Regions from separate parts of the Homo sapiens genome. Here region 2 is linked to region 1. The links come from fine-mapping of genetic effects on gene expression. A gene starts in region 1. The other region holds a variant in brackets. All regions are shown on one strand. Distances are from middle to middle.

Region 1 (5,385 bases):
CTTAAAAAAGAATATTAGCCATGAAAGCTGCATCAACTATCCACTTCTGGAAAAGGAATTTATCATAGCCTCAATGTAAAAAAAAAGAAACTAAAAACATTTCCCCCTCTTTTCAAAATACAGGTCTTCTTTTAGCCATATGACCTTAAAGCAGGTCACATTTCCTCTCTGGAACTAGGTTTCCTAATATGTGTCAGGCCCTGTGGTAGGTGTTTTGCATATAATGTCTACTAAGATCTGTTATGCAGATAAAATGAAACAGAATTTATTAGCCCTTTCTTAGAGTAAACTAAAATTCAAAGGGGTTAGGAAACTTGCCCCAAATCACACAGCTAATAAATGGCATATCTGATACACTGAACTTTCCTCTAACTCCAAAGACCTTGCTCTTTCCACCATATTATCTTGTAAAATGAGGATATTCTCAATAATCTCTAAAGTTACTTTATGTGATAAAACATATATAATTCAGTAATCCATTACTCTTCCAAAACATGCACAGGAAAAAAAATTTATTTGTTGAACGTTATCTCACTACTTTGAACTTGCTGACACTTAAAAATAATTTTAGAATTTTAAAGTAGACATAACTCGTTGACAATCTATAATATTTCACTAGGTTTTTCATGGACTATATAACGCAAAGTGCTTAATAAATTTAAAAAATGGCAAATAAATGGTAAGAGATAGTATTTTCAACCAAAGTTTTTAACAAGTTCTAAAGTGTCTTTAAAAAATATATATGCAGTTTTTACTTTTCTAAATTTTATAGTCATTAGAACCCAATTTACCTGTTAATTTGAAAAACGACGCTTTAAAGTCACTTTGAAATATCTTGTTCTAAAATAAATTACTGCAGAATAAAGAAAGGATATGGGTTTTCTGATAGCGATTTCTAGTCTAATATTATATTCTGATTGTCACCGAAATCATTCGTTATCTCTTCAGAATATGCTACTTGAAACATCTTTTGATCGTAGACCAGTCTATGTTACTTATGGTGAAATTCACCTACATTAGCCCAACTGAAAGCCGAGCATTTAAACATTACGAGTATTGCTGTGCGGTATCGGAGAAATTGAGAACCATTCGGTGCTAAGGGAAACACTTTATTAGACTTGATGATCTACTAATTTAACAAGCATTTATTGAGCATCCCCTACATGCCAGGTACTGAAGTAGAAGTCGAATATAATACAATCTTTGGCCATTAAGAACATTACGTCCGGCCGGGCCCGGTGGCTCACGCCTGTAATCCCAGCACTTTGGGAGGCCGAGGCGGGTGGATCATGAGGTCAGGAGATCGAGACCATCCTGGCTAACAAGGTGAAACCCCGTCTCTACTAAAAATACAAAAAATTAGCCAGGCGCGGTGGCGGGCGCCTGTAGTCCCAGCTACTCGGGAGGCTGAGGCAGGAGAATGGCGTGAACCCGGGAAGCGGAGCTTGCAGTGAGCCGAGATTGCGCCACTGCAGTCCGCAGTCCGGCCTGGGCGACAGAGCGAGACTCCGTCTCAAAAAAAAAAAAAAAAAAAAAAGAACATTACGTCCAGCGGACTGAAACTCCAGAACGGCTACGATCTTCGCTGAAACTACTACTTACAGATACGAGAACTGGTGGACCACACTATCTCACCAGTTCATTCTCCTGTTTATCACCGGAATATCAAATCCAAAATCAAGAGTACCCAAGAGAGGAAAAAAGGCAGCTACTCCCGAGCAGTTGAGCTCAGAGAGTAACCCCCACTCCCACGTTACTGAGGGCTGTGGGGTCTCCCGGGTGGACCCCGCAGGGTCCCGCGAATTAGAGGGGCCCCGGGAGGCACCTTCAGAGCCGGCACCAGGCAGAGGCGGGGGCGGGGCAGGCCGGGACCGGCGTCTCCATGCCGGGCCTCGCTCACCTCTTCCACCTCGATCTCCTTGTAGTCGATCTCTTCAAAGTTGAGGACCTGGGAAGGGGCTTCGATCATCTCACCGGCCGAAGACGAGGAGGAGGAGGAGGCGGCAGAGGCTGTAGACATGATCCCTCGCGGCGCCCGGTGGGGCCGGGAACGGTGCCACCCGGACAATCCGGGTGAGACCCGCGCCCACCCGCCTCCGGACCGACCCTCAGCCTGGAGCCGCGCAGTCCTACTACCCGGCGATCCGTGGCGGGGGTAGAGGCAGCGGCCACAGCCGTGTCCGGCTCTGGCTCCGCTGCGTTTTCCGCCGACGGGCCCCGCCCACTACACTTCCGGTTCCGGGCTGAAATCGGAAACAGGAGGAGGGCCGTAAACTCCGGGGTAGGGGAGGGGAGAATTTTGTGACTTGGAAAGAAAAGGAGGGACAGGTTGGGGGTGGGGTGGAGTAAGCTAAGAAGCAAACTTGGACCTCTAGAACAAATTTCGCGAGACCTTTATTACAGGGCCTCAGCAACCGGATGATACCGCGAGAGAGGACGCCTGACGTAATTAAAGTGCGCGAACGGAAGTGGCGCGGAACATGACGGAAAATCAGTACGGTTGGTCCCTTAAGGACCAGCGGGAAAGATAAAAGCTGGGGTTTAGTCTGTGCTGCGTGAAATATGTCTTGGCCTCACTTCCTGTCCTCTGAGCTGCCTGCAGCCGGGCGAGGTGGTGTTGAACTGTGTTTTTTGTGACGAAGCTTACTTTTAAGTTTCATCCCTAAACTAAGTTGACCTGTTTCTTTAAGACGGCTTGCAAAATGTGTTTTCCTCAATGTGGGATATGGAAAGAAGCAGTTGCTCCTGTTATTTTGAGCTAGTACCTGACGCTATGAGAAATTCTAAAAGAGCGAATCAGATCATGCAACATGAATAACTATGGAGGCTGAGTGATCAAGAACAGAAGTTAATATTTTGGTGTTACAAACTTTCCACGGATTAGGTGAATAAGATATTTATAATTTGGTGTGTTCATCTCAAGTTATGGATTACGAGTGCGGGGCACTAGTGCTTTAGATTGGTAAATGAATCATCAACAGTCGCCTTGAAAATCGAATATTTTTGTCACCATTTTCAGGACATGAGAAAACACGCTGAGAGTTTAAAGCAATTATGGTCCTCACAAACTAGATCATTCTGTCCCCAAGATGGTCAGTATTGCTCATGTTGTACTACCAGCACAAGTTTTAGTTTTAAACTAACTGTTGAATTTTATATAGTCCGTTTGACATAAAGCCTAACTGTGGAATTATGTTAAACACATTTGGGATTGCAAATAGATCATTGGATTTGACCATCAAGAAGTTACAAACTCCTGGGAAACATTCTGTCACTTTTTATTCGTAGTTCTAGTGACACGCAGTGACAGTTTGATGAGTGGATAAAAAAATGAAAGAAACGATAATTTCTTTTCACTGTACACTCTCTCTTTGCATGCTCTTACCCAAGGTCTCTGTTTCTCATACTATTTTTATAATGATGACTCCTAATCTCCAAATACTCAAGATTTTTCCTGAATTCTGGACCTATTGGTCATCTCTACTTAGACAAACACCTAAACTTCAAGATACCACAGCAAATTCAAAAGTTGTCACCCACCACAAATATATTCCTATGTTATTTTCCTATGTCACTTAAGGATGCCATCACCCAGTTGGTTGTCCAAGTGAGAAATCAGGGCATGTGAAATGATGCGTGGTGCACTGATACCCAGTAGAAGCTGATATAATCAGTGGGACAGTCATTTTCACCTGTCATTCCCCTTGCATTTCCAAACAAGGATGGTCACTTCTTACCTTGTGCTATAACTCTGCAGGTCTATATCCGATTTCCTTTTAACACCTTGATCTTGCTGCCAGGTGGGAACTCAATAAATACTTAGATATTCTGTACAAATGAATAGCTTTTGTCAGTCCTCCCTTTCCCTGGAGTGTAAGATATGTTTCCTGTACCTTCAGTTTAGGACTGGAATCTTGACAAAGGACTAATTAATTACCACAGCCATGATGCAGTTCTCCTGCTTGATTTTTCCCCCCAAAATTTTGTTACAAAAATGTCAAATATAGAGAAAAGTTGAAAGAATTTATGGTGAACACCTATATGCCCACCACCAGGATTCTACCTTTAACATTTTACTATACTTGCTTTATCATAATATACATATGTGCATCTCATCTCTCCATCCATATTTACATCCATCTACCATTTTGCTAGATGCATTTCAAAGTGAATTGATTACATGATTTTGAATATCTTCTACCCCAACACTTCTATGTTTTATCCACTGATTTGGACTTCTAATATTGATGCCAGTCTAAAATCAATTTTTGTCCAACTTGCTTGCAGATTACTTTTTTCTTTTTTGTCTGCCTGCGCCTTTTCCCTAGCTTCTAGTAATAGATGGAAAGTTTCATCAGTGTTTATGTCTCTGGGTTCAGTCATTCCCAAGGTCCAATCCATCTCTTACATTCTGTGATTTGGTTATGTGAGCTAGTAAATTACCATTTCATTTAAGCTGGTCCAAGTTGTATTTTTGTCACTTGTAACCAAATAATCCTAAGTAATAAAGTTTAAATGCAGAGGAATGATGGAGGGGAGCTGAACCTCTCTCAGTTCACTTCAATTTTGACTTTGCATTTCCTTTAACTTTCATGAATTAAGGATAGAAACTTGACCTCAGAATTTCATGTCAACTTCAGTCACCAGTCTGTGTGTCTCCACACGTTTCCGGATACATATCAAAACTATTTAAGTAAATTCCTTGAAGTCCCTCCGAGTTTGAGCACCCTCCACCATTCTCCCTCATGTCAGCACCCTAATAACTACTCTCTAACTTCCAACTCTGTCTTCAATTTTGGCCCTTTTATACTCTCCAGGGGTTGAGAGGACAAGGGTTTCAAAATCCATTTCCCACCACCTCTTTGCTTGTTCTAAATGAGATTCTGATCTTATTTGGCTCATTTTGGGTGTAGGGATATCTGGGACCTATTTTAATGGAGGCTTAGCAGAAACTGGGACTAAAGTAACACCACTTTAATGTTCTGGGTCATATATATGTCAGACAAGTGTTCCATATTTCCATCATAGGCTTGATGATAACATCAATAATTGAGTTTCCATTATTCTCTTCTGCCTTTTGTGGTATTTGCTATATTCTACAATAGTGTTTTTCAATCTTTTTTTTCATTATTGTTCTTTTAAGGAGCCTTTTTAGACATCTTAATGCCCCTCCTCAAAGTTTTAATACCTCAGATACACTGTATATCTATTTATGTATTGTATGTATATTTGTGCTTTCTATGTAAAAAGAGTAAGATTTTTTCTCTCTCCAGTTTTTGCCCCCTGTGGAGGTGTTATTGCCTCCATTGAGAATGCATGTACTAGCAGTTTCATTTTTCACATGACACATCACAAAGTACAACCGAGAGCATCTCTTGGTAGCCA
Region 2 (5,385 bases), 350 kb after region 1:
GTCACCTTCTTTCAGCCTCTTCTACTGAATCTGCTTCTATGCTATTCCTAACTCCCCCTCTTGTTTTGGCTCTTTGAGAGCTTCTGCATGCCGCTTTTTCTCCACAAACCATTTCACATCAGCTCTGCTCCACATCTGATCTGTGGGTGACTTACATTCAAACTCCCTGAGAGAAGAGAGGATAGGATTGATCGGTTGTCCTTATTTATTGCAGTCTTGTTATTGTGTGAATTTCTTCTCGCACAAGGTGATGCCACAGGCTGATGGCCAATGCATGTCAGACTGCTTTAGATTCAGATACTAACCCTTGATTTAGGCATCTAGGAAAAACAGTGGGGTCTCAGAAACCAAGGATCATGCCTAAGGAAGTGTTTATGGATGCTTTATTCAGAAGGAGTTGGTGAGTGTGGCAGGTGCTCAGGGTTTCTTAAGACTTTTTTTCTAGTGCTAAAAAAATGCCAACATCAATATATAGAATGCCTGCTGTGTGACAGGCATTTAAAACACATTATTTCTGGCTCTGAGAACAACCTTACCATGTAGGTATTATTATTCCTTTTTTTTTAACTTCAAAAATCACACAGCTGGTAAATGAATGAGCTAGAATTTGAATTCAAAGTGTCCATTTTCTTTGATGACATTATTAAAAGTTCTTTAAGTATATAGACCTCTGAGTATGAGAAGGCCTTTTTGTAAAGAAACAGCAACAGCACAGAAAGTTCATATACTATAAAAAGCTAAAAAAAATTTTGATGGACCATAAGGCATGCACGCATTCATTTGTCAATTAATTAATCCATAAATGACTTTAAATGGGTACTGTGAACAAGGGACTAAAAAAATGAGTAAAAATAATCTTACCAGATACAAATCCAAATGGTTTCATATGAAATAGTACTAACTGTACTGTTTTGCATCAGAATGTCTGAATACTAACTATGAAAATCTGGCTAATACTTTTTTGCAAGACAGACAATTGCTTAACAATGAAGAAAGAACAGAGAAATCTTATGGGAAAAAATGTTAATGTAAAATACTCATGTAAATTTTGAGATTGACAATTTTATATAACTTTTTCCTGGAGCTCATGAAAAACTATTGTCCCAAAACATTTCCTCAATGGTAACAGGATCCTATTCTGTAAAGCCCAGCAAATATAAGGTAAAGAAATCAAGCTTTCTTTCAAAATAATGCCATTTGCCATGGAAAGAACTGTCAATGAGAACAAATATTTTTAATATGCCAAAAATGTAGATGCTTTGTCTTTTTTCTCATTTTTTTGATCAAAAGCTAGAAAAGAAGATATTAAGAAGAGAGAGCATATTGTATATGAATCCTAATTAAATAGGTATAAATTCACAGGGATCCAACCAAAATGTGTCACTTTAGCTGATAGGTGAACACCAATTGTACTCTCCTTGGTTAGTGAAGAGAAACTATGGAAATAGAAGCCTGGGGCTGGTGCCCCTGAATGAGCCCCGGTGTTGTAATAAGTTTTCAAAATAATTCTTAAAAATCCTTAGCAGATTTCACTTTTTAAAATGGTCAAGGAAATTACCACATCTACATGTAGCGTAAATGACCAATTGTGGATATAAATTGAAGCAGTTCGGAGAAAGGGATTGTTCACAGATCTTTGCTGCTTCTGTGAGAGAGCTTATCATTACATTCCGACACAGCTTTAAAATACCTCAAAGTGCCCCCACCATAGCCTGCCTGCCCCGTGTCCCTTGACTCTTTTCTCTACAACTGAAAACCACCTTTTCTCTTAGCCTGTGGCTGGCTGGAAGGCTACGGAATGTGAGTTTAATCACAGATTACCATTTTCTACTTTTTCTGTTTTAAGCCAGTTATACTGCTGCTGTCTTAACAGAAATAGTCAAGACTATAAATATATCTACCAGATATCAATTTAAACACATAATGAAAAGTGAAGCAACAATAAATTCACATCTGAAAGTCTTGGGTTTCACCTTTCCCTGATGGGACGAGGTAACATTTACTGAAAACAAAAATAATAATCACAATTGAAAAAAAAATTCTATTAGGAATAGAAGCTCTAAGAGGAAAAAGATTATATCATGAGGAACATTGTACGTTTCTTTTAGCTCATGAATTTAACATGAAAAATGTCTATTGGCTTTGTTTTTCGGGCTGTAGACTTTTTAAATCTTTAGGAATGCTGCCGCCCAATTGTAGGGGCTGCTGTTCAGTTAAAGAGAGGATACTGTGAATATGAGAGGAAGCAGAAAGATTCCGTAAATCATAAGGAAAACAATCCATGGCACTTTGGTTTGTGCTATCTCGAGGCCACGATAGATAAAGAAATGAGAGACCTGGCTGGTTT[C/T]CGTTCAGGAAGTTGCTGGAAGGTGATTGAAACTTTGATTAGCCTGAGCCATGGACAGAGAAAAGAGCTTTGTTCTTCTCTTCCTATCTCCAGCTTGGGTAAAAATACTCACTCTGTTTTGGAAGATTATGAAGAAAGTCTAGACTATAGTAACCTTTCAAATAGTGACATGAAGTTAGGATTAAGATGCTGGAGGCTTCTTTTTAAGACATGGGTGGAAGTTCAGCAGGAGGGCACATGAGAAATGCAGCTGGTGCCTAATCGCCACGTTTGAGGCCTTCAGCTAACGCTTCGCTAGAGGAACTAGGATTTTCTGATTAACTTTGTAGAAGAAGTGTCGGAAATGCTTTTCAACACGTAGGTTGTGACATTAACCTCAGCATAAAAAACCCCTGTATGCCTTCTGGGTCAGAAATCAGAGGGGCTTAGCATTCTCCAAATCCCCAGTGATGACGACTAAGGTGGATTCAAAATTAAGACAGATAATTTCCTAAAACAAGGTGCTCTCATTCTGTTTCCCCAAAGTTCCAGCAATTGACATTGTGTGTGCTGTGACTGGTTTTTGAAACCAGATAACTATGTGCAATAGAGAAAAAACACCTCAGCTGCGAATATAATTTGCTGTCTTCTACTTTTTATTTAAGTTGATGAGGAAATACTTGGAAAAAAAAACCCCACCCACTTCACCTTGTCTTTATCTCTATTTTTATTGTTTCTGGAGATAAATTCTGAGGGTAATTTTGATAAACATCCTGGAGGCCTTGGCCGTTCTAATTGTGTCATCGAACTATAGGGATTTCCTTGGCCTGAGAACCACCCAACCCAAGTTGCGAAGTTCTGAATACCTCTACAAGGCCAAAAGCTCTACAGCAGAGATGCAGCATAATTAGCTCTTCTGTTATACTCTTGAACAAAATGTCAGTTCAGAAACCTGAAGTGTGTGCTAATGACAAGGGCCCAACTGTCCCATAAAACTAGGAAAGTGGTGTTTGTTGTCGATTTCAAGAACTGGAAATCAAAATCTTAATGACACAGGAAATGCTCTTCAAAGGCCAAGAAGTCTTAGTGAAAGATAAGAGGATCAATCAGTCTTAAATGCGAGTTTACTAAGAGTGAGAGGTGGGATGCTGCCAGCATGGATATGTATTTTGAAAGGAATGAATAAAACTCAGCAATAGCGTTAATTTTACTTTGAAGTATATAATGAAACCCCTCAAGTACGGAGACTTCAACACCCCTTTCCCAAAATGACCAAAATTTCCATTTTCGAGCATTTTTCTTTCTGCCTTTTTCCGTTCCCTGTCTTAACAGAATTTTAAAAGAGCAGCTAATAAATGAAGTATACTTCAGTTTCATGTAATGGATTGGATCAGAAGGGAACGGATAAGATGATATTGGAAAAGCAGGTGGGGGTCGAAAAGCTGCCAAAGTGCTAAGCTGTATGGGTTCAATTGATTTCTGGCGTGCAGAACCCAGTCCCCGGATCATTCCAGCAAATGAGAGGAAAGCACTCCCTGTTCTGTTACAATTGCCAGCTCTTCTCTAGGGACTGGTTACCAGCAGGGCCAGAGGTGATGAGGGGGAGATAAGGCCAATTAAGAATTCAGACTGGGGAAGCAGGAAACAGAAGCCACAGGGTGAATTCCAAAGGGGAAGATGGGAAATGAGACTATGGGTCACTGTAAGCATTCAAGGTAGAATACAAATATGAGTTTTAAACCCGCTTTAGAGAAACTCATTTTAGTGGGAGTCAGGATCAAAGGAGGCTGAAGCTTTGCAATGTGGTTTCCAAAGGCAAGGCACCGGGGCAGAATAACTGAGTAGAAACTTACCATTAAAACCTAGCCCACTGCTTATCATCCTTTCTGTGTTCTTGGCACACTTTGGGATATTAGAAATTTTAGTGGTGTACTTGAAGGAATTCAAAAGCTCAAAACAAAACTAAGCAATTCAGCAATAATTTCAACCCAATCACCGCTATGGTGTGACTATAATGGCACCGTGTTCATAATAGCACCCCAGGGATTGGGAGCTAGACGGGCCTGCCGTGAAGGGTAGACAGATGGAGCTCTGGGTACTGGCTCAGTGACACTAGGCCCCTTACTTAATGACTCTCGTCATCAGATTCTGCATCTATAAAATGAGGAAGAAGAGTGGACCCCTTCAGAGGGGTGAGATGGAGAGGTCACTGCCCCTGGCCCTTGTGAGTGCTCATCCTGACGCTGGCCTCTTGGACCCCCACTCCCACCTGTCACTGTCCCCTCTTCACTGCCCTGAGAACACTCCCGCAGTGCTCCAGAGGCCAAGTTCTTGCCTGGCCAGTCAATATGAAATCGTTCTTGGGCAAAGGTGCACTGTCTTTTACCTTACTCACAGCAAGCTGTAGTTTTGCTCTTACTAAATCACAAGACCCACTCAGCAAAAAATTCTTTCTGACATCCGTGGTAATAAAAGTATATGCACTTGAGTAGCAAGGACCAATTTCATACACTGAACAAAATTTGGGAGCATAACTGAAAGGATTCACAGCATACCAGGGGTCCCTGAGCTGGCTGTTCGAGAATGATATTTGCAGGAAAAAGACGAAAGCTTAGTTTTCTCCCTAAATGAAGGCTTCCCTTCTACCCTAAATAGTGGGCTGATAAATGACTTAATTGTTCTGTCTTCAAGCTGGCTGCTGCCAGGCATTGTAGAGTCTATCTCGTTTTTCCCTTCTTGAAAGCAACCCTTTGAGGCAGGTGATGTTACTGTTTTTCAAAGTCATTTTATAGGCAAGAAAACTAAGGATTAGAACCATTAAGTGACTTCAAATCCAAGTCTTTATGATATCAAAGCTTCTGCTCTAACTGGGTGGTTCTCAATCGTTAGTGAACATCAGAATCACCTGGAGGAACTTGTTAACACCAACTGTTGGGCTCCATCTCCAAAATTTCCCTTTCAGTAGGTCTGACTTGGGGGTCTGAGAATTTGCATTTCTGTTTCCCTGAATGCTAAAGTTTCTGGTACTGGGACTACAGTTGAGAAACATTACTATGTAT

What was found. PIP is the estimated chance that this variant, and not a neighbour inherited with it, causes the effect. A credible set is the group of variants that fine-mapping cannot tell apart.
Region 2: its variant is the best candidate, but not a certain one, in a credible set for the expression of MAP3K7 in spleen (GTEx, PIP 0.60).

What each region holds. Positions count from the first base shown.
Region 1 is chr6:90,584,864-90,590,248 of GRCh38, forward strand. MAP3K7 (mitogen-activated protein kinase kinase kinase 7) reads right to left here and starts at 2,209. Exons shown (of 17, transcript NM_145331.3): 1 at 1,901-2,209. The coding sequence starts at 2,020. LOC124901363 (a long non-coding RNA gene) reads left to right here and starts at 1,931. Exons shown (of 2, transcript XR_007059680.1): 1 at 1,931-3,092. RefSeq lists silencers at 2,029-2,148, 2,145-2,341.
Region 2 is chr6:90,932,560-90,937,944 of GRCh38, forward strand. The region is part of intron 3 of LOC107986623 (a long non-coding RNA gene); the gene reads left to right. Among named protein-coding and RNA genes, the nearest start is that of MAP3K7, 350 kb to the left of the region's middle. The variant C/T (reference allele first, on the strand shown) is at 2,348.